Linked DNA regions of Homo sapiens: regions 1, 3 and 4 are each linked to region 2. Evidence: fine-mapped expression QTL. A gene starts in region 2. Each other region holds a variant in brackets. All regions are shown on one strand. Distances are from middle to middle. Region 1 overlaps USP38-DT (USP38 divergent transcript). Region 2 holds the start of USP38 (ubiquitin specific peptidase 38). Region 3 overlaps USP38-DT (USP38 divergent transcript). Region 4 overlaps USP38-DT (USP38 divergent transcript).

Evidence for each region. PIP is the estimated chance that this variant, and not a neighbour inherited with it, causes the effect. A credible set is the group of variants that fine-mapping cannot tell apart.
Region 1: its variant is the best candidate, but not a certain one, in a credible set for the expression of USP38 in whole blood (INTERVAL, PIP 0.80).
Region 3: its variant is the best candidate, but not a certain one, in a credible set for the expression of USP38 in whole blood (INTERVAL, PIP 0.63).
Region 4: its variant is the best candidate, but not a certain one, in a credible set for the expression of USP38 in CD8 T cells (Kasela 2017, PIP 0.57).

The regions. Positions count from the first base shown.
Region 1 is chr4:143,138,162-143,143,481 of GRCh38, forward strand. The region is part of intron 1 of USP38-DT (USP38 divergent transcript); the gene reads right to left. Among named protein-coding and RNA genes, the nearest start is that of USP38-DT, 44 kb to the right of the region's middle. The variant C/T (reference allele first, on the strand shown) is at 3,103.
Region 2 is chr4:143,181,531-143,186,843 of GRCh38, forward strand. USP38 (ubiquitin specific peptidase 38) reads left to right here and starts at 3,387. Exons shown (of 10, transcript NM_032557.6): 1 at 3,387-4,602. The coding sequence starts at 3,921. It overlaps USP38-DT (USP38 divergent transcript), which reads right to left and starts at 3,331. Exons shown (of 4, transcript NR_185979.1): 1 at 2,978-3,331. RefSeq lists enhancers at 2,437-3,322, 3,323-4,207 and silencers at 3,259-3,308, 3,529-3,778.
Region 3 is chr4:142,962,615-142,967,934 of GRCh38, forward strand. All of the region lies in intron 1 of USP38-DT (USP38 divergent transcript), which reads right to left. Among named protein-coding and RNA genes, the nearest start is that of INPP4B, 120 kb to the left of the region's middle. The variant A/G (reference allele first, on the strand shown) is at 1,999.
Region 4 is chr4:142,914,275-142,919,594 of GRCh38, forward strand. The region is part of intron 3 of USP38-DT (USP38 divergent transcript); the gene reads right to left. Among named protein-coding and RNA genes, the nearest start is that of INPP4B, 71 kb to the left of the region's middle. The variant T/TAA (reference allele first, on the strand shown) is at 3,271.

The sequences.
Region 1 (5,320 bases), 43 kb before region 2:
AGAAGAAGCTACCTCCAGAGGTGGGACAGGAAATGTTCAAGATGAGCCTATAACATCTTGTCATACCAGAGATCCACGAAGGCAATAGGGACTACTAGGGTCATGTCACGAGGATTCAGGAGTCAACCTGAATAAACTCCTCCTGTACAAATATAGTATAATTTGAGCATCAATATGATTAATATTAAACTATGTTTACACCCATTAATTCTTTATAATATGAAAAAAGCTTATTTATTTTCTTTGAAGGATACTCTACCTTTCTTAGCTCTGTCTGAAATAAACAAGTACACAGATCTAAAGATGTGTATATGCTTATTTTTTGTAGCAGCCAGGCTTTTAGCACAATATGAAAAAATATCGTATTCATCTCAAAATAAATTTAAACCATGAATATGCCTACTAATATATTTAACTTCTAACCCAACAAAAGCATTTTCCATAGGTGGCAATAGCAGAAAAAAATAGAAAGCACAATGTGATTAGAGAAATTTACATAAATTCATTCCTGTTGCTTCTATAGAAGTTAATGCAATTAATTCTCTACAAGGTCAATTAAGAACTGCTGATGAAGTTTTCTGAAGGATTGCCTGAATCCTTTTAAATCTTTTAGATTTAGTCTATATCTATTACATTCTTTAGAAAAACTTTTAGCAATAATCAACATTTCATCTTATTGAGGAAAGAAACTTTGCAAGAAGCAGTAGTTTATCTTTCATTTGATATATTAAATCCCTTTCAAGTATATGTTGAATCTTTGGAGGTAAATTCAGTGGGGTGTTCCCAAGGGCAGCCTCTCAGTCAGTCCTATTTTCAAACCAAAGATGCCTGTTGTTGCCAATATATTGCTGTTACGTTTTAGCAGATGGCTGTGGTAACATATTACTCCATCTAGTTAAGTAGGTTCTATTCACACAGGCATGTAACTATTTCCTTTTGTATCATTCACATTCATTTCTTAGCACACACTTTGCTTTTCTTCACATTCCGCGCAATATGTGCTTGAGATCAAACATCCAATTTTTAACACTATAATTATTCTCCCTACCATTTAAAATATCCTACAAGAGCAGTATGGTGCAGTAAAAATTACATGGGCTTTGAAATAAGACAAATCTTGGTTAGAAACACAAAATCACTATATATATGACCTTGGGGAAATTACATACCCTGAGCCCATTTCATTGCCTGTAAAGTAGGAAAAATAATACCTAACTTGCAAATTTGTTGTAAAGATTGATGTAGTACATACAGAAAATACCTCCTCCCCACCAAATGATAAATACAAAAGTTTACAATAAAGCAGTAAGTTCTCATTTTCTCTCTCTGAGCTCTATCTTTCTACACAGTAAGATCATGCTTTGTATTGCTATTTTAATAATACCAACATGTCCTCCATGAGCTATTTAATCTGATACTCCACTCAATATAGTGATTGCTGATATTTTTCCTGACTCTTTTGCTTTCATTCTCTTTCTGGTGATCCTATGAGAACTGGTGTCAGCAGAGAATTTCTATATAGAATCAACTTGAAGCAACAATCTGGTAAGGAAACATTCAGAAAATTGTAAAGCTGGATGCATTAGCAATGTCTTGCTTCTTAACCTTGCTAATTTTGAGCCCCTACCTTCTTGCTCATTTTGTACCTGTTCATTGGCTTTCTTTCATTCAGATCCTTGAACGCTCCTTCCTGATCTAGGACCTTTGCACAAGCTGTTTGACTGCTCCCTGGAAATCTTAAATCTCCTCACCCTGCTCAACCTTCTGTCTTTAGCTTAAATGATGCCTTCTCAGGGAAACCCTCCTTAAATTTCCAGACTAATTTAAGTTTTTTCCTACTACATCCATACTTTTTTCATAACATTTACCTCAAATTTTTAAAATTAAGTAAAAATATTTCTGTGGGTGTCTAGCAAGATGGGTGAATAAGAACAGCTCCAGTCTGCAGCTCCTAGCAAGATCAATGGAGATGCCAGGTGATTTCTGCATTTCCAACTGATGCACCTGGCTCATCTCACTGGGACTGGTTAGACAGTTGGTGCAGCCCATGGAGGGCAAGCCAAAGCAGGGTGAGGCATTGCCTCACCCAGGAAATGCAAGGGGTCAGTGAACTGCCTCCGTGGGCCAAGGGAAGCCCTGAGGGACTGTGCTGTGAAAAATGTTGCACTCCAGCCCAGATACTATGCTTTTCCCACAGTCTTCGCAAATCGCAGACCAGGAGATTACTTCGGGTGCCTACACCATCAGGGCCCTGGGTTTCAAGCACAAAACTGGGTGGCTGTTTGGGCAGACACTGAGCTAGCTGCAGGAGTTGTTTTTCATACCCCTGTGGCACCTGGAACATCAGCGAGACAGAACCATTCAGTCCCCTGGAAAAGGGGTGAAGCAAGAGAGCCAAGTCGTCTAGCTCAGTGGATCCCACCCCATGGAGCCCAGCAAGCTAAGATCCACTGGCTTAAAATTCTCACTACCAGTACAGCAGTCTGAAGTCAACCTGGGACACTGGAGCTTTGTGGGGGAGGGGCCCACCATTACAGAGGCTTGAATAGGCGGTTTTCCCCTCACAGTGTAAACAAAGCCACGGGGAAGTTTGAACTGGGCAGAGCCCACCACAGCTCACCAAAGCCACTGTAGCCAGAGTGCTTCTCTAGATTCCTCCTCTCTGGGCAAGGCATCTCTGAAAGAAAGACAGCAGCCCCAGTCAGGGGCTTAGAGATAAAATTCCCATCTCCCTGGAACACAGCACCTGGGGGAAGGGGGGTGGCTGGGAATGCAGCTTCAGCAGACTTAAACATTCCTGCCTCCTAGCTCTGAAGACAGCAGTGGATCTCCCAGCACAGCGCTCGAGCTCTGCTAAGGGACAGACTGTCTCCTCAACTGGGTCCCTGACCCCCATGCCTCCTGATGGGGAGACACTTCCCAACAGGGGTCAACAGACATCTCATACAGGAGAGCTCCGGCTGGCATCTGGAGGGTACCCCTCTGGGACTAAGCTTTCAGAGGAAGGAAGAGACAGCAATCTTTGCCGTTCTGCAGCCCCTGCTGGTGATACCCAGGCAAACAAGGTCTGGAGTGGACCTCCATCAAACTCCAGCAGACCTA[C/T]ATCAGAGGGGCCTGACTGTTACAAGAAAAACTAACAAACAAAGGAATGGCATCAACATCAACAGAAAGGACATCCACACAAAAACCCCATCTGAAGGTCACCTACATCAAAGACCAAAGGTAGACAAATCCACGAAGATGGGGGAAACCAGCACAAAAAGGCTGAAAATTCTAAAAACCAGAATGCCTCTTCCCCTCCAAAGGATCACAGCTCCTCACCAGCAAGGAAACAAAACTGGATGGAGAATAAGTCTGAAGAACTGGCAGAGGTAGGCTTCAGAAGGTGAGTAATAACAAACTCCTCCGAGCTAAAGGAGCATGTTCTAACCAAATGCAAGGAAGCTAAGAACCTTGAAAAAAGGTTAGACAAATTGCTAACAAGAATAACAAGTTTATAGAAGAGCATAAATGACCTGATGGAGCTGAAAAACAGCATAAGAACAATGGGAAGCATACGCAATTATCAAACAGCCAAATCGATCAAACAAAAAAAGGATATCAGAGATTGAAGATCAACTTAATGAAATAACGCGTGAAGACAAGATTAGAGAAAAAAGAATGAAAAGCAACGAACAAAGCCTCCAAGAATATGGGACTATGTGAAAAGACAAAACCTAAGTTTGATTGGCATACCTGAATGTGACAGGGAGAATGGAACCAAGTCGGAAAACACTCTTCAGGATATTATCCAGGAGAACTTCCCCAACCTAGCAAGACAGGCCAACATTCAAATTCAGGAAATACAAAGAACACCACAAAGATACTCCTCGAGAAGGGCAACCCCAAGACACATAATCATCAGATTCACCAAGGTTGAAATGAAGAAAAAAATGTTAAGGGCAGCCAGAGAGAAAGATCGGGTTACCCACAAAGGGAAACCCATCAGACTAACAGCAAATCTCTCTGCAGAACCCTACAAGCCAAAAGAGAGTGGGGACCAATTCAACATTCTTAAAGAAAAGAATTTTCTACTGAGAATTACATATCCAGCCAAACTAAGCTTCATAAGAGAAGGAGAAGTAAAATCCTTTACGGAGAAGAAAATGCTGAGAGATTTTGTTACAACCAGGCCTGCCTTACAGGAGCTCCTAAAGGAAGTACTAAACATGGAAAGAAACAACCGCTACAAACCACTGTAAAAACATACCAAATTGTAAATACCATCGACACTATGAAGAAACTGCATCAACTAACGGGGAAAATAACCAGCTCGCATCATAATGACAGGATCAAATTCACACATAACAATATTAAACTTAAATATAAATGGGCTAAATGCCCCAATTAAAAGACACAGACTGGCAAATTGGATGAAGAGTCAAGACCCATCCATGTGCTGTATTCAGAAGACTCATCTCACATGCAAAGACATACAGAGGCTCAAAATAAAGGGAGGGAGGAATATTTACCAAGCAAATGGAAAGCAAAAAAAAAAAAAGCATAGGCTGCAATCCTAGTCTCCAATATAACAGACTTTAAACCAACAAAAGATCAAAACAAGACAAAAAAGGGAATTACATAACGGTAAAGGAATCAATGCAACAAGAAGAGCTAACTATCCTAAATATATATATGCATCCAATACAGGAACACACAGATTCATAAAGCAAGTTCTTAGAGACCTACAAAAAGACTTAGATGCCACACAATAATAGTGGGAGACTTTAACATCCCACTGTCAATATAAGACAGATCAACGAGACAGAAAATTAACAAGGATATTCAGGACTTGAACTCAGCTCTGGACCAAGCAGACCTAATAGACATCTACAGAACTCTCCCCCACAAATCAACAGAATATACATTATTCTCAGCACCACAACACACTTATTCTAAAATTGACCACATAAGTGGAAGTAAAACACTCCTCGGCAAATGCAAAAGAACAGAAATCCTAACAAACAGTCTCTCAGACCAAATGCAGTCAAATTAGAACTCAGGATTAAGAAACTCACTCAAAACCTCACAACTACATGGAAACTAAACAACCTGCTCCTGAATGACTACTGGGTAAATAATGAAATTAAGGCAGAAATAAGTAAGTTCTTTGAAACCAATAAAAACATAATGTACCACAATCTCTGGGACACAGCTAAAGCCATGTTTAGAGGGAAATTTATAGCACTAAAATGCCCACAGGAGAAAGTGGGAAAGATCTAAAATCGACATCCTACCATCACAATTTAAAGAACTAGAGAAGCAAGAGCAAACAACTTCA
Region 2 (5,313 bases):
AGACTCCTTACGACTTTTTCTAAACCATGTTTTTCATTTCATTTTTTAAAAGTTCATTCATTCAAAAAATAGTTAGATTGAACTGGGCATGGTGGCTCACGTAATCCCAGCACCTTGGGATGCTGAGATGGGAGGATCATTTGTGTCAGGAGTTCAAGACCAGCCTGGCCAACATGGTGAAACCCCATCTCTACTAAAAATACAAAAATTAGCCAGGTGTGGTGGTGGGTGCCTATAATCCCAGCTACTCAGGAGGCTGAGGAAGAAGAATTGCTTGAACCCAGGAAGTGGAGATTGCAGTGAGCTGAGACTGCAGTGAGCTGAGATCACACCACTGCACTCCAGCCTGGGCAACAGAGTGAGAGACTTCATCTCACAGACAAAAAAAATTGATAGATTGTTTACCCTAGTGTTCTAACTGCTAGATATAGAAGTAACTAATAAAATTAAGGGGTTCTTTTTGACCTCATGAAGCTTAGATTCTAGAGAACAGAAAAAGGCTGTAAACATATAATAAATGAGAACAGTAGGAAAAGACACAAGAGCAACTTGATGGAGGGCCTTAAAGTCAACAGTAGCCATTTGAATTTTAAGAGGAGAAGCACTGGAAGATTTAAAATAGGGTAGTGAGGCTGCTCTGCCTATGAAGTAGCCAATGGTATATTTTTAATTTTTAATTGTCTTTTATTCCTTTACTTTCTTAATAAACTTGCTTTCACTTTGCACTGTGAAAAAAATTAAATGAAATAGTGTCGTAAGATTAGCTTGATGTCCATTTTAAGTCATTAAAACAAAAACCATATCAAAGTGGTTGGTGTGTTTCTTTACAGTCTTTTTTTCTTTACAACTTAAAAAACATATGAATATAAATTTCATAAAGTCAGGGATTATTTGTAATTACTTCATATGATGGTTTATTTATCACAGTCCTCTCTAATCTATACAATCAGTTTGCTTTTGATTCTATTAGGTGATATAAATTTCCTAAGAGAAAACTAACCTCACAATAATGTTATTGCAGTTGGCCAACTCTAACCACTGCTTTTGGAACTGCCTTTTCTCTTTGCTTATCACAAACATAAACACATACACACACTTTTCATCTAATAGTATGATGGAAATAATAGAGACTCTAGAGTCAGACTTGATTATTTTTTTTAACCTCCTTTGGCTTCAATACCTTATCTATAAAATGTAGCTATTAACATCTATTTCCAAAACCCCGTTTTGAGAACTAAGGATAAAGTGTAATATATTGAGTTCCAGGCACACAGAGGTTGCTAAATAAACAATCACTCCTTATCCTGTGCTTTTTCTCTTTCATCCCCATCACTCAGCTTCCATTCTCAGATCTAACATATTTGTAAAACCATGTAGTTGGCAATTGAGGCCTTAGACTAAATCTTTATATGAAATTTTAAAGCCCATTACAATAGCACCCACTAATCCAATGATTAGTGGCATGATTCACTGCAAAAAAATCTTCCACAGACTTCTGAAAATATTTTAAAATGTTAAAAAGGAACATGGTATTATTATAGAACTTTTAGTTATGCTATAAAATAAATTTAAAGTTGGCCACTTTCAATTGAAATCTTATAAAAGAGCATATTACATACATTTTTTAACCAGTGGCAAAAGAAGGAAATAAGCGTTGAATATCTTGGTATAAAAACCTAGTATTTCATTTCATGCATCTATCATTCAAGAGGTATTTTAAAAATACAGAGTCATGGTGCTTTTGGAAGTCTAATATTATGACATGTAATTTATATGGACTAATAGCACTATGTTCTCTCAGACATCTTATTTTGTAATATTCAATTTTTCAAGACCTAATATTAACAGAAAGAAGAAAATGTTATAGACAATTCAAAGTAATCTGTCAAGTTTTAAATTTACCAATATTTTTTTCTTGTCTACTTTGGAATAATCACTTCGCTGGTACTATTCAGCAATCTTCATTCGTCCTGTTAGTTTCTTAGCACAAAGATTAATTCCAAATTTCCTCCACTCCACCTCAAATCCACGATCCTTCTTAATACTTAATTCCTTCTTAATATTTTATTTTCTATATTACCTTTGTCTTCCACTGTGGCATTATTCCCAGTAAAGACAAACATCTGTGTACCTTCACCTCCTATTGGAAAAATCATTCCTGTCTCTAGCATGACTGATAGATTAATTACCTCAATTCTCTTTTATCTTCCGTATCTTCCTACGAGTCAACTTGGTCTTAAGTTCCCTTTTACTCAAGCTCCTGTCTCCTCTAAACTGCTCTTCTTAAGACTACCATAATCGACGTGTGAATATATTAGTGTAATCGTGTTTGTAACTTGGTAAAAAAACAAAACACTATTTAGCAAACTGAAGTAACAGAATTTTGTTCATTTTTCTACGGGACATTTTAAATGACCTATTTCTTTAAAGTTTTGTCTGTATTACAGGGCCTTAATGTCTAGTTTCACAACTATATTAACCAAGCCTGAAGCAGGCTACAGTTAGGCAATATTTTCCAATATAAAGACCTCTGATTAAATTCTTACTGTGAATCTTCGGAATTTGGCATGAAACAGAACAAGCATGATTGCACCTGTTCTTCCCTATTGTAAACCATCTTCGGTGTCAACATATACAATAAGTTTTGTGGTATTTCCACCTGGTTTTCTATTTTCAAAGTACCCTTGTATGACACAGGTATAAAAATATTTTGATTCTAATCTGCCATTTTCCTTACTCTCACACTTTTTTGGACGGCTTATAATTTTCGATATGGTACAAAGCTCACTAACTGGTTCTTTGCTAGAGGCCTGCTACTGATACTGATGGTCGCTAAATGCTAGGTACGCCGCCAGTATTGCTCTTACTTCAATACCGACATCGCAGGATAAAGGCAGTCACATTTAGGCGCGCAAGCGCAATTCTTGATTAATGAGCCAAGGCAGACTTCTCAATCCGAGTTTTGAGTTTTCCTTACTTTTCCCCCAAATGCTCTTTTCCTCGGATTTCACATCGATAGCACTTATTCGAGTTTTCACGAGTAACCTGACGCAGGCGGAACCGACGAAGACTAGCCGGCAAGAATCCTACAGTCGCAGCCATCTGCGCAGCGTCCGCCGGGGACGCTCCGCGCGGAAGACCGCCTGTGACTCGACACACTCTCCAGTGACGCGGCCGTCGCCGCACCTGCGCGGCGGGGCGGGAAGGAGACTCCCAGCGCCGGGGGGAAGGGAGTCTACGACTCGGGAGGGAGGTGGGGGAGCAGGGAGGGAGAGAGGGAACAAGGGAGAAGGAGAGAGGCGGACAGGCGGAGGGGCGGAGGGGCAGAGGGGCGGAGGGGCGGTCCTTCCGGAGGTTCTTAGGTCCTTCACTTCCTGTTTGCCGGCACTTCAAAATCCGGGTCAAAGGGTGTCGCTTCGGTCTCTTCTCCCCGGCTGATCCCAGCACTCTCCGTGACAGCGCCTCCTGACTCAGCCCAGGACCGGCTTCTTCTCACGACCTGCTGGAGACTGGACGCCCACACCTGACCCGGAACTCGGAGGCGTGCTTCCTCCACCCGCCGGCTAGCAGCCCCGGGCCCTGAGCTCCCGCCGACGCCGCTGGGGGGCCCGACAGGCCCCTCGGCGCTGATGCTGAGTGGGATCGAGGGCCCGGGGCGGCGGCGGAGTACGGGCCTCTGGCGCCTTAGGCCAGCCGCAGGTGTCGGTTCTTAGGCTCTCCAGGCTCGCTAGCTCCCGCCCCGGCTTGGATGGGTCTCCCTGCGCCATAAATGTGGCTGCTGAGGCGGCGGTGGCCGTGGCCCGTCGCGCTGCTGCTGCGGCGCTCCAAGTTCATCTCCGCCCCGGGGCTCTCCTGCCCCACCTCGGGGCTGCCGCCACCCGCTCCTTATCCCCTGGCCCTGGCCTTGCAGCGTGGCGACAATGGACAAGATCCTGGAGGGCCTTGTGAGTTCCTCGCATCCCCTGCCCCTCAAGCGGGTGATTGTGCGGAAGGTGGTGGAATCGGCGGAGCACTGGCTAGACGAGGCGCAGTGCGAGGCCATGTTTGACCTGACGACCCGGCTCATCCTGGAGGGCCAGGACCCTTTCCAGCGGCAGGTGGGGCACCAGGTGCTGGAGGCCTACGCACGATACCACCGGCCAGAGTTCGAGTCCTTCTTCAACAAGACCTTCGTGTTGGGCCTCCTTCATCAGGGCTACCACTCTCTGGACAGGAAGGATGTAGCCATCCTGGACTACATTCACAACGGCCTGAAGCTGATTATGAGCTGTCCGTCGGTGCTGGATCTCTTTAGCCTCCTGCAGGTAGAGGTGTTACGGATGGTGTGTGAGAGGCCGGAGCCGCAGCTCTGTGCCCGACTGAGCGACCTTCTGACCGACTTTGTGCAATGCATCCCCAAGGGGAAATTGTCCATCACGTTCTGTCAACAGCTGGTTCGAACGATAGGCCATTTCCAGTGCGTGTCCACCCAGGAAAGAGAGCTGCGGGAATATGTCTCCCAGGTGACAAAAGTGAGTAACTTGCTGCAGAACATCTGGAAGGCCGAGCCTGCCACACTACTGCCTTCCCTGCAAGAAGTTTTTGCAAGCATCTCTTCCACAGGTAAGGGTCATTATCTTTCAGAATATCTCATAAAAAATCAGTATATGTCTCTCTTGCACACACACATTCACACCATGTTTTCCTCCTGCCCTAAAAACATTCTTAAGCGAGAGCAAATCCTAATACCTCATCCCAAATTTATTCACATTCACTACCTTATTCAGGACGTCACATCGTACTTTAAAAACAGGCAGCGTTCCCATTTTAAAGGTTGAGAACGTCCAGGTCTAAGACCTTTGGCACTAAACAAGTTGCTTAATTACCCAGCCTCTGCTCAAGTTATTTGGAATGCTTTGAGGATGACAGCTACTGCAGAAAGCTTCCATTCATTAGTGACTAATGGTAGCATGATGTTTACCATAGTATTTATTGTACGTGTCTCTAATTTTGTAATGAGTTTTTCCCCCATTTTTGTATTTCCTCATTTTTGAATTAATGGATTGTGCAGTTTGTTTTATTACTGGATTATCCCAGATAACTATGAAGTTTTTAAATAGTGACATTTTTTGTCTACAGTATCTAGTAGACAAAGGAGGAATACAGATAGAATGAGGGAAGGAAGAGTACGAGGATTTAAATATTTGTTTTTGTGCCCATGAACTGCATTCTCAGAAAGCAGAGAAGGGTCACATGATACTTGCCTAGAAAATGCTTTCTCGCCGAGGAATTTTACCAGTACCTCTACCTTCGTTGTTCTGTCTTGGACCTTTC
Region 3 (5,320 bases), 220 kb before region 2:
AGGATTTCAAATGCAGAAATAAACAATGAAAAGAAAGGAGGGCAACACTTCAGGAAAGAAAACAACATAAATAAAAGCACTACAGCAGAAAAATTGATACATCTTATTTTGTCCTGTTAGAATAGAAGGTATGGTGGGAAGGCTTTGGAACACATAAGCTGGAAGAGTAAGTTTAGATTACATTGTGAAGAGCACAAAGTTGTTATAATTATAAAATATTTATGAAGCCCTTTCTATATGCAAGCATGACGCTGGTACTTTATGTGTACTTTCTCATTTTATCATAGGAATAAACTCTAATTTGTTATATATCGCCTCTAGTCTGAGGCGTCAGTATCTAATTCAGCAGAAAATTTTGAAGAACCACAAGAAACTGAATGACACTCTCTAGCTGGGCTTCTGGAAGGCTAATCATGTAAGAGCATTAAGTACAGGATGCAAAAGGGAGTAATAACAATAAAGGTACTTTTGTAATAGATAAGACACAAGGTAGGATTGAAACAGTGTGGCAATGTTCAAACTGAAGAAGAAGGGCTAGATTCAAGACATTAGGAACAACTTGACAAGTAACTATGCTATGATGTGAAGAGTCCTATGAAGGAGAAGATGGAGGAAAACCCTAACATTTAGAACCTGAGCCCTGAAATTAATAAAATAAGGAGTCAAGTGTTGTAATTAACAAAAAATAGGAAGTAAGGCAGATGCAGTGGGCTTATTAAGATGTTTCTAGAGTCTGTGCAGAGAACTTTTGATTTTTTACTATGTGGCTTTGAGAAAACAGCTTAATGTCTCAAGCCTGTTTTCTTCTCTGAAAAAATGTGAGTAATAACATCCAACTTACATACTTTACAGGGGAATTAAATAAGATAATATTTTTTTTTTTTTTTAAAAAGGAAGGCCAGGCGCGGTGGCTCATGCCTGTAACCCCAGCACTTTGGGAGTCTGAGACGGGCAGATCACAAGGTCAGGAGATCGAGATCATCCTGGCTAACACGGTGAAACCCCATCTCTACTAAAAATACAAAAAATTAGCCGGGTGTGGTGGCGTGCACCTGTAGTCCCAGCTACTCAGGAGGCTGAGGCAGGAGAATGGCGTGAACCTGGGAGGTGGAGCTTGCAGTGAACCGAGATCGCACCACTGCACTTCAGCCTGGGCGACAGAGTGAGACTCTGTCTCAAAAAAAAAAAAGAAAAAAAGAAAAGCAAAGAAAAAGAAAAAAAGAAAAGGAAAAGCACTATGGATAGCACATCTCAGATACTCATTAAACAGTAACTAATACTGTTTTTATTGCTACAGCTATTGTGTCTTCTGGGCATTATGAAAAATTGGGAGTAAAAAGTTTAGGTTTGGAAGATATTAATTGAAGATGTGAGAGAGGAAGAAATCATCAAAGAATTTTTTTTTAAGTTTTGAGGAGAAAATCTTGGATTACTTCCATTTTAAGACACAGTATGAGAGAGGGGACTCTGTGAAGGAGAGAGGGGGGAAATATTAGTAAGGTAAAAAGAAATGAGAGATGGGGAAAAGAAAGATCATAGAGGAGATGGTTAAGATGTCAAATGCTGCTTAGAGTATAAAAAAAGTTGAGACCTGAGAAAAATGTTAGCGGCAGAGTCAAAAAGTGTTGTCTGTCAGAAGATGGAGACCTAAATGTGTTTATTGGCATACAGGAAAGAGTTAGTAGAGAGGAAGATTAAATTTACAAAGAAAAAAGAGAAAAATTGAAGGAATAAGATCTCAGAGAAAGAAAAGGGGTCTAGATTAAGAGCATAAGTGGAAAAGTCGGCCTCTGCCAGGAGGAGACAGGCACTTCCTCTCGGCAGGGCATGAGAGAAAAGAGGAGGAGGTCAGAGCCGTGGATGAAAAACCGAAGGACCTAAGAGCAGTGCCACGTGATGACAGAGCTCACTTAAGCTGGCTTTTTAGTAAAGTAATAGGTTAGGTCATCTACTAAGGGGAAGAGAAGTGGATCAAATTAAAGCCTTGAAAATATGTTC[A/G]CAGTTTATTTTTTTTTCCACAGGTAAAGGGTGTTTACCCAGTAAAGGACATTTCTTCATGTTTTCACCTTAATAATATTTTATCAAAGCCATTTTTCTCCTCAAAGCACTCATTTTCCTAGTATTTGGAGAAAGTTTTCAGAGAAAAGCATTTAAGTGACTGAAATTAGTCCACTCCTTAATGTCAACTCTATGTAAAAAAGGACTAAGTGATGGTGATGGGAGTGGTGAAGGGGGTTCCAAATTGCACAACATCACTCTGAAGCATTCACCTTCCTACAGAATGATTATAATACAATTTTTGTAGATCTCTTTTCTAAACCCCTCTATTGGGTTGAATGATGTCCCCACAAAATGCATTTCCCCCTGGAGCCTTAGAATGTGACCTTGTTTGGAAATTAGGTATTTGCAGATGTATGCAGTGAAAATGAAGCCATACTGCATTAGGGTGATCCCTGATCCAATAGGACTGGTGACAGAGAGAAAATTGGACACAGAAGAAAGACAGAGGCAGAAACTGAAGTTATATTATCACAACCAAGGGATGTCTGGGGCTTTCAGAAGCTGGAAGAGGCTGTATTAGTCTGTTTTCATGCTGCTGATAAAGACATACCCCAGATTGGGAAGAAAAAGAGGTTTGATTGGACTTGCAGTTCCACTTGGCTGGTGAGGCCTCAGAATCATGGCAGGAGACAAAGGCACTTCTTACATGGTGGTGACAAGAGAAAATGAGGAACAAACAAAAGCAGAAATCCCTGATAAACCCATCAGATCTCGTGAGACTTATTCACTATCACAGGAAAGAGCAGCCCCCATGATTCAATTGCCTCTCCCTGGGTCCCTCTCACAACACATGGGAATTCTGGTAGCTACAATTCAAATTGAGATTTGGGTGGGGACACAGCCAAATCATATCATTTCACCCCTGGCCCCTCCAAATCTCATGTCCTAACATTTCAAAACCAGTAATGTCATCCCAACAGTCCCCCAAAGTCTTAACTCATTTCAGCATTAACCCAAAAGTCCACAGTCTGAAGTCTCATCTGAGACAAGGCAAGCGCCTTCTGCCTCTGAGGCCGTAAAATCAAAAGCAAGCTAGTTACTTCCTAGATACAATGGGAGTACAGGTATTGGGTAATTACAGCCATTCCATATGGGAGAAATTGGCCAAAACAAAGGGGTTACAGGGCCATGCAAGTCCAAAATCCAGCAGGGCAGTCAAATTTTAAAGCTCCAGAATTATCTCCTTTGACTCCAGTCTCACACTCAGGTCATGCTGATGCAAGAGGTGGGTTCCCATGGTCTTGGGCAGCTCCACCCCTGTGGCTTTGCAGTCTCTGTCCCAGCTGCTTTCACAGGCTGGCATTGAGTGTCTGTGGCTTTTACAGGCACACGGTCCAAGCTGTAGGTGGATCTACAATTATGGGGTCTGGAGGATGGTGGCCCTCTTCTCACAGCTCCACTAGGCAGTGCCCCAGTAGGCACTCTGTGTGGGGGCTCTGACCCCACATTTCCCTTCTGCATTGCCCTAGCAGGGGTTCTCCATGAGGCCCTGTCCCTGCAGCAAACTTCTGCCTGGGCATCCAGGAGTTTCCATATATCTGAAATCTAGGTGGAGGATCCCAAACCTCAGTTCTTGACTTCTGTGAACCCACAGGCTCAACACCATGTGGAAGCTGCTGAGGCTTGGGGCTTCCACCCTCTGAAGTCACAGTCCGAGCTGTATGTTGGCCCCTTTCAGCCACAGCTGGAGCGGCTGGGACACAGGGCACCAAGTCCCTAGGCTGCACACAGCACAGGGACCCTGGGCCCAGCCCATGAAACCACTTTTTCCTCCTGGGCCTCCGGGCCTGTGATGGGAGGGGCTGCCATGAAGGTCTCTGACATGGCCTGGAGACATTTTCCCCATGGTCTTGGGGATTAACATTAGGCTCCTTGCTACTTAGGCAAATTTCTGCAGCCAGCTTGAATTTCTCCCCAGCAAATGGGTATTTCTTTTCTATCCCATAGTCAGACTGCAAATTTTCCAAACTTTTATGCTCTGCTTCCCTTATAAAACTGAATGCCTTTAACAGTACCCAAGTCATTTCTTGAATGCTTTGCTGTTTAGAATTTTTTTCTGCCAGATATTCTAAATCATCTTTCTCAAGTTCAAAGTTCCACAAAACTCTAGGGCAGGGGCAAAAAGCCACCAGTCTCTTTGCTAAAACATAACAAGAGTCACATGTGCTCCAGTTCCCAACAAGTTCCTTATCTCCATCTGAGACCACCTCAGCCTGGACCTTATTGTGCATATCACTATCAGCATTTTGAGCAAAGCCATTCAGCAAGTCTCTAGGAAGTTCCAAACTTTCCCACATTTTCCTGTCTTCTTCTGAGCCCTCCAAACTGTTCTAACCTCTACCTGTTACCCAGTTCCAAAGTCACTTCCATATTTTCAGCAGTGCCCCACATTACTGGGACCACTTTACTGTAGAAGTCTGTTTTCACGCTGCTGATAAAGACATACCAGAGACTGGGAATAAAAAGAGGTTTAATTGGACTTACAGTTCCACATGGCTGGGGAGGCCTCAGAATCAGAGGCCAAGAACAATTTTTCCCTGCAGGCTTCCAAGGGAGCATGGCCCTGCCAACACCTTAATTTTGGACTTCTGGCCTCCAGAACTGTGAGGGAATAAATGTCCATGTTTTATGTCACCCAGTTTGTGGTGCTTTGTTTCAGCAGCCCTGAGAAACTAATACACCCACCAAAAGGAACAAGGGATGTAAATCCTGTAACTATTGAATGCTACCTATATTAGGCATCTTAAGAATAAATCAAAAATCAGAAGTATCATTTTCTGCCAGAACTTAGCTTTGTTGAGCCTGCACCCCTCTTTGGAAATACCAGGAAAAATATTTATTAAACTGTCATTGTAAACAGAGTGTGGTTTATCTGAAAATCCTGGAAAACAGATGGGAGTGGACCTGAGATAAAATTATCTTTAAATTTCACCATGTAAAAAATTACCCAAGTACTGTTAGTCCCAAAGTTCTACAGTAGAGGTCAAATGGGAATGAGAACTAATCACTTCAAATAACGAATTGGTAGAAAAAAAAAATAGCTCAAGGTCCTAATCCATGTCTCCTTAAAAAGAGAGACACCAATTAGAGCACTGAACCTGGAGCAACGTACAGTAATGAAAGCAAACAAGAGTGAGGTATCCATCTGGAACTACTTGATAACACATCAAAGAGAATCACCAACACACAGACGCCAGAGGGAGTGGAAAGGACAAAGCCCACTGCATGTGTGAAGCCTTCCCTGCTGAATTTACCACAT
Region 4 (5,320 bases), 270 kb before region 2:
GAGTCATAACAGGAAGAAACCAAAGACCTTGGTGTATTAGTCAGGGTTTTCCAGAGAAGCCAAACCAATAACATATATATATATACATACATATATATATACACACACACACATATATACACACACACACATATGTATGTACATTATTAATTCAAAGAGAATTCTTTTACTTTCTTGGAAATCACTCTATCCTTAAAGTATGCATATATATTAGGAGTATTCTGCTGATTATTAATCATAGCTAACATCCAGTTAACAGGCTGTAGTTCATTTAAACAAACATGTATTCACATCAGTTGTGTCCTTTTTTTATTTTATTTTATTTTATTTTTATTTATTTATTTATTTTTTAATTTTCTTTTTTTTTATTATCATTATACTTTAAGTTTTAGGGTACATGTGCACATTGTGCAGGTTAGTTACATACGTATACATGTGCCATGCTGGTGCACTGCACCCACTAACTCGTCATCTAGTATTAGGTATATCTCCCAATGCTATCCCTCCCCCCTCCCCCCACCCCACAACAGTCCCCAGAGTGTGATATTCCCCTTCCTGTGTCCATGTGATCTCATTGTTCAATTCCCACCTATGAGTGAGAATATGCAGTGTTTGGTTTTTTGTTCTTGTGATAGTTTACAGAGAATGATGATTTCCAATTTCATCCATGTCCCTACAAAGGACATGAACTCATCATTTTTTATGGCTGCATAGTATTACATGGTGTATATGTGCCACATTTTCTTAATCCAGTCTATCATTGTTGGACATTTGGGTTGGTTCCAAGTCTTTGCTATTGTGAATAATGCCGCAATAAACCAACTTACAAGGGATGTGAAGGACCTCTTCAAGGAGAACTACAAACCACTGCTCAAGGAAATAAAAGAGGATACAAACAAATGGAAGAACATTCCATGCTCATGGGTAGGAAGAAGCAATATCATGAAAATGGCCATACTGCCTAAGGTAATTTACAAATTCAATGCCATCGCCATCAAGCTACCAATGCCTTTCTTCACAGAATTGGAAAAAACTACTTTAAAGTTCATATGGAACCAAAAAAGAGCCCACATCACCAAGTCAATCCTAAGCCAAAAGAACAAAGCTGGAGGCATCACACTACCAGACTTCAAACTATACTACAAGGCTACAGTAACCAAAACAGCATGGTACTGGTACCAAAACAGAGATATAGATCAATGGAACAGAACAGAGCCCTCAGAAATAATGCTGCATATCTACAACTATCTGATCTTTGACAAACCTGAGAAAAACAAGCAATGGGGAAAGGATTCCCTATTTAATAAATGGTGCTGGGAAAACTGGCTAGCCATATGTACAAAGTTGAAACTGGATCCCTTCCTTACACCTTATACAAAAATCAATTCAAGATGGATTAAAGACTTAAACGTTACACCTAAAACCATAAAAACCCTAGAAGAAAACCTAGGCATTACCATTCAGGACATAGACATGGGCAAGGACTTCATGTCTAAAACACCAAAAGCAATGGCAACAAAAGACAAAATTGACAAATGGGATCTAATTAAACTAAAGAGCTTCTGCACAGCAAAGGAAACTACCATCAGAGTGAACAGGCAACCTACAGAATGGGAGAAAATTTTTGCAACCTACTCACCTGACAAAGGGCTAATATCCAGAATCTACAATGAACTCAAACAAATTTACAAGAAAAAAACAAACAACCCCATCAAAAAGTGGGCGAAGGACATGAACAGACACTTCTCAAAAGAAGACATTTATGCAGCCAAAAAACACATGAAAAAATGCTCATCATCACTGGCCATCAGAGAAATGCAAATCAAAACCACAACGAGATACCATCTCACACCAGTTAGAATGGCAATCATTCAAAAGTCAGGAAACAACAGGTGCTGGAGAGGATGTGGAGAAATAGGAACACTTTTACACTGTTGGTGGGACTATAAACTAGTTCAACCATTGTGGAAGTCAGTGTGGCGATTCCTCAGGGATCTAGAACTAGAAATACCATTTGACCCAGCCATCCCATTACTGCGTATATACCCAAAGGACTATAAATCATGCTGCTATAAAGACACATGCACACGTAGTTGTGTCCTTCTTACTTACATTTTTTATTTTTGAATTTTTGTTGTTTCTACCGCAGTTTATCATTACTATTGCTAATGTCAAATTGCTAAATCATGAAAGTAGAAATTATAGTTTAGAGTTGACTTATTAAACATAATAGTACTAAAGAAAATATTAACCTAAATATCACAGCTTAAATAATATCATAAACATACAAGATGAATATGAATATACAGAATAGGCTGGGACAATTGCATCTTCAGCTGTGGTTATTTGTGTAAGCCTCAATAGTGAATTTTGTTGGACCTCCGATCCATTCACTTCTGGTCCCCATGGCAGTTTCAGTAAAACATTGTAAAGGCTTCTGCTTCATTTTCAAATAAATCACATGGTCTCTTTCGTAAACCAGTTGTGTTTTTCCAGAGATATTACAATATGTTACTGACGGAAAAAAAATTGATTGTATTACTAAAGATGGAGAAGAGACAAAACTACAGGAGCATTATTCATATTGCAATCATCTAGTGAAAATAGAGAAAGCTTATTGCTCATAACAAGTCTCTAAAGTTAATAAAAAATATTGTGCTAAAAAGAAAACAGAACCTACGTTATTGGTAAAATTCCTTTTATGAAATGAACTTATTGGATATCACCTAGTATCAGTGGCACAAAATGTGGAGTTACAAACATAGATGTATATTATCTTGCATTTGGATGAAACCACTGATGTATTTTATAAATCAGTTCTTATAATATGGTAAGTTTAAAAAATCCATTACAATCAAAGAAATTTTTAATTAAATTTCAAGAATTAAAAATTAGATAATTTAATTATCTAAGAGGAAAAAGTAATGATTTCTTATCACATTTAACTCTAAGATTTCATACTAAAGGACAAAAGACCTTTTTAAAAATATTAGCTCCAATTTTCTTTGAGGGATGACATAGTCTAGAAAGGGTGTGTTGGGGTTAGCGCTTAAATAACAATCATTAGCTATGCAGCAAGAAAGGGTGTTACTAAGCTTTTTCACCAAAAAATCAGTGAAATATCCTGATGTATTCATTTTAAAAATGTGGTTGACTCAGTGTTGCAGAAAATAGCAATTATTTTGAATATAATTAGGTTAAAGTTCTTTAGTTACAAACAACCAAACCAATTTCTGACTGACTTAGATAAAAGTAAACTTATTAAAATGG[T/TAA]AAAAAAAAAAAAAAAAAAAAAGCTTACAGAATTGATGGCGGGCTACAGAAGGACCTTTGGGAATAGGAAGGAATGAAATCAGCTTCTGAGGCTAAGAATCAGAAGTCCAGCATTTGTGGCAAATCAGGACCAGGCTGGTGAAAGCCTACCACTGGGATGAGACAGAAGGCCAGCTGTTTAACTCTTTTTTCCTCTACACAAGATTAAAATATTTCACCTTAAATTGTAGAAGACGGGGATCTGATAAAGAGTCCCACCAGATTGTATTTCATTCATCAAACTGAAGTGCTAAAGAGGCTAGGTAGGCAAAATGTAACCAATGTCCGAAAGAGGGAGACTCTGAGAACTTTATTTTCAGCATACTACGTAAAGAAATGGTCAGCAAGGACAAGAGACTACATTGCCACATGTTAAAGACAAGATATCAGGGTTTCTTAAGAAAAACAAATTGTGATATAAATGGTTTATCTCTAAGGGTTTAACTTTTATAACGTTGGATAATTTTCTTCACACCAAGAAACAGAAACTGACAACATGTTTTACATGCTACATGTTATAAAACATTTTATTATCGTGTGTGAATTCTGATACAGAACAGAGTTAAATGAAACTGCAAAGTAAATTTAGAGGCCCATCAACCTCACCTCCCAAAATAAAACATTTACTTGATTTCCCTACTTCTGAGTGTGGTCTGCTTATAACCGTATCTAATGGAGCAATTAATGTTGTCTTCAGTTAAAAAAAAATCTGAAAAATCACTAGATATATATTGATCTGAATATCTAGAACTTTTGACATATTCCCTAAACCCCTGCAAATTAGAGGTCTTAAAGAAATAAAGAGGAAAAAAAAGATGTGAATCCTAACCAGCAGCTCAAAATATCCATCACTGAACCAGATATTTTTATTCTAGGGAAAGGTTAAAGCAATGTGATCTCACCAAGATGAAAAAAAAAACTATAAATTTAGAAAGTCTATGCTTTATATTTAATTGGTTTAATTTTTAATTTTAAAATGTTAATTGTAAAGAAATGTTTTTAACTTACCAAAATTAGTGGGCTCCATTTTCTCATGTTGACTGGTCCTTAAGTCAACAGAGATGCCAGAACTTGAGAAATAACCCTCCAGCAGGAGCCTGGACTCTATCTATAAATGTTGAGCATATTAATCTTTGCCCAGAGCTCAAATCTGGAAACACGATGAATAGCATTCAACATGGATCATAAACATGAACACATTTAATAACAGTTACAGGAAGCTTAATCTTAGAAGAAAGGCATGCCATACTCTCTTTTTGGAAATATGTACTAGAAACTAAGGTGATGAGTAATTTGACAGATAGTAGAGTGTATGTTTAAGTATAAATTATCATGATTATTTGTTAATTATAATGAGAAGCAGAGTGGTATAGAAAGTACACAAGATTTGGAGACAGAAATCACCTTATCCCTGGTTTTTCTACCAAGTGAATGTTTGCTATTGAATGAATTATTGTACTTAATATCTCTAAACCTCACTTCATTCCCCTGTAAAATGGCAAAAATAATGATATGCCCAGATACTACATGAAAAGTAAATAAGGTAGCAGTGTGTACATTATAAAGTAATCTAAAAATATTGCTGACTTTTCCACATAACTTCTCAAATCTTCGTTCTATTTGGCTTAGGGAAATTAGATTAAAAATGTGTTTTAATCATCCAAAAAAGACTAACCTTTTATCTTACCCTTCGAAATTAAAATTAAGGGAAATAAGCATCATCATAAATGATAATGTCAAGTAGATGTAATTCATCATTCTTATAATATTTCAAGTGCCAAAATAATCTCTTTTTGGCACCAATCCTAATATCAGCCAGAAATGGTAATGTCAAAACCACCATTACACTTTTTATTATTGTGCACATTGTAGTTTTAATATTGCCTTCATTTCAAATTCTTATCTAATTATTGTGAATTACCAACAATAGCATTTAGATGTTCATGAATAGAAGTAAATACATTTCCCTGCTACTTGATTAGAGGAGAAATATGAGGCCTTAAGACCTTTT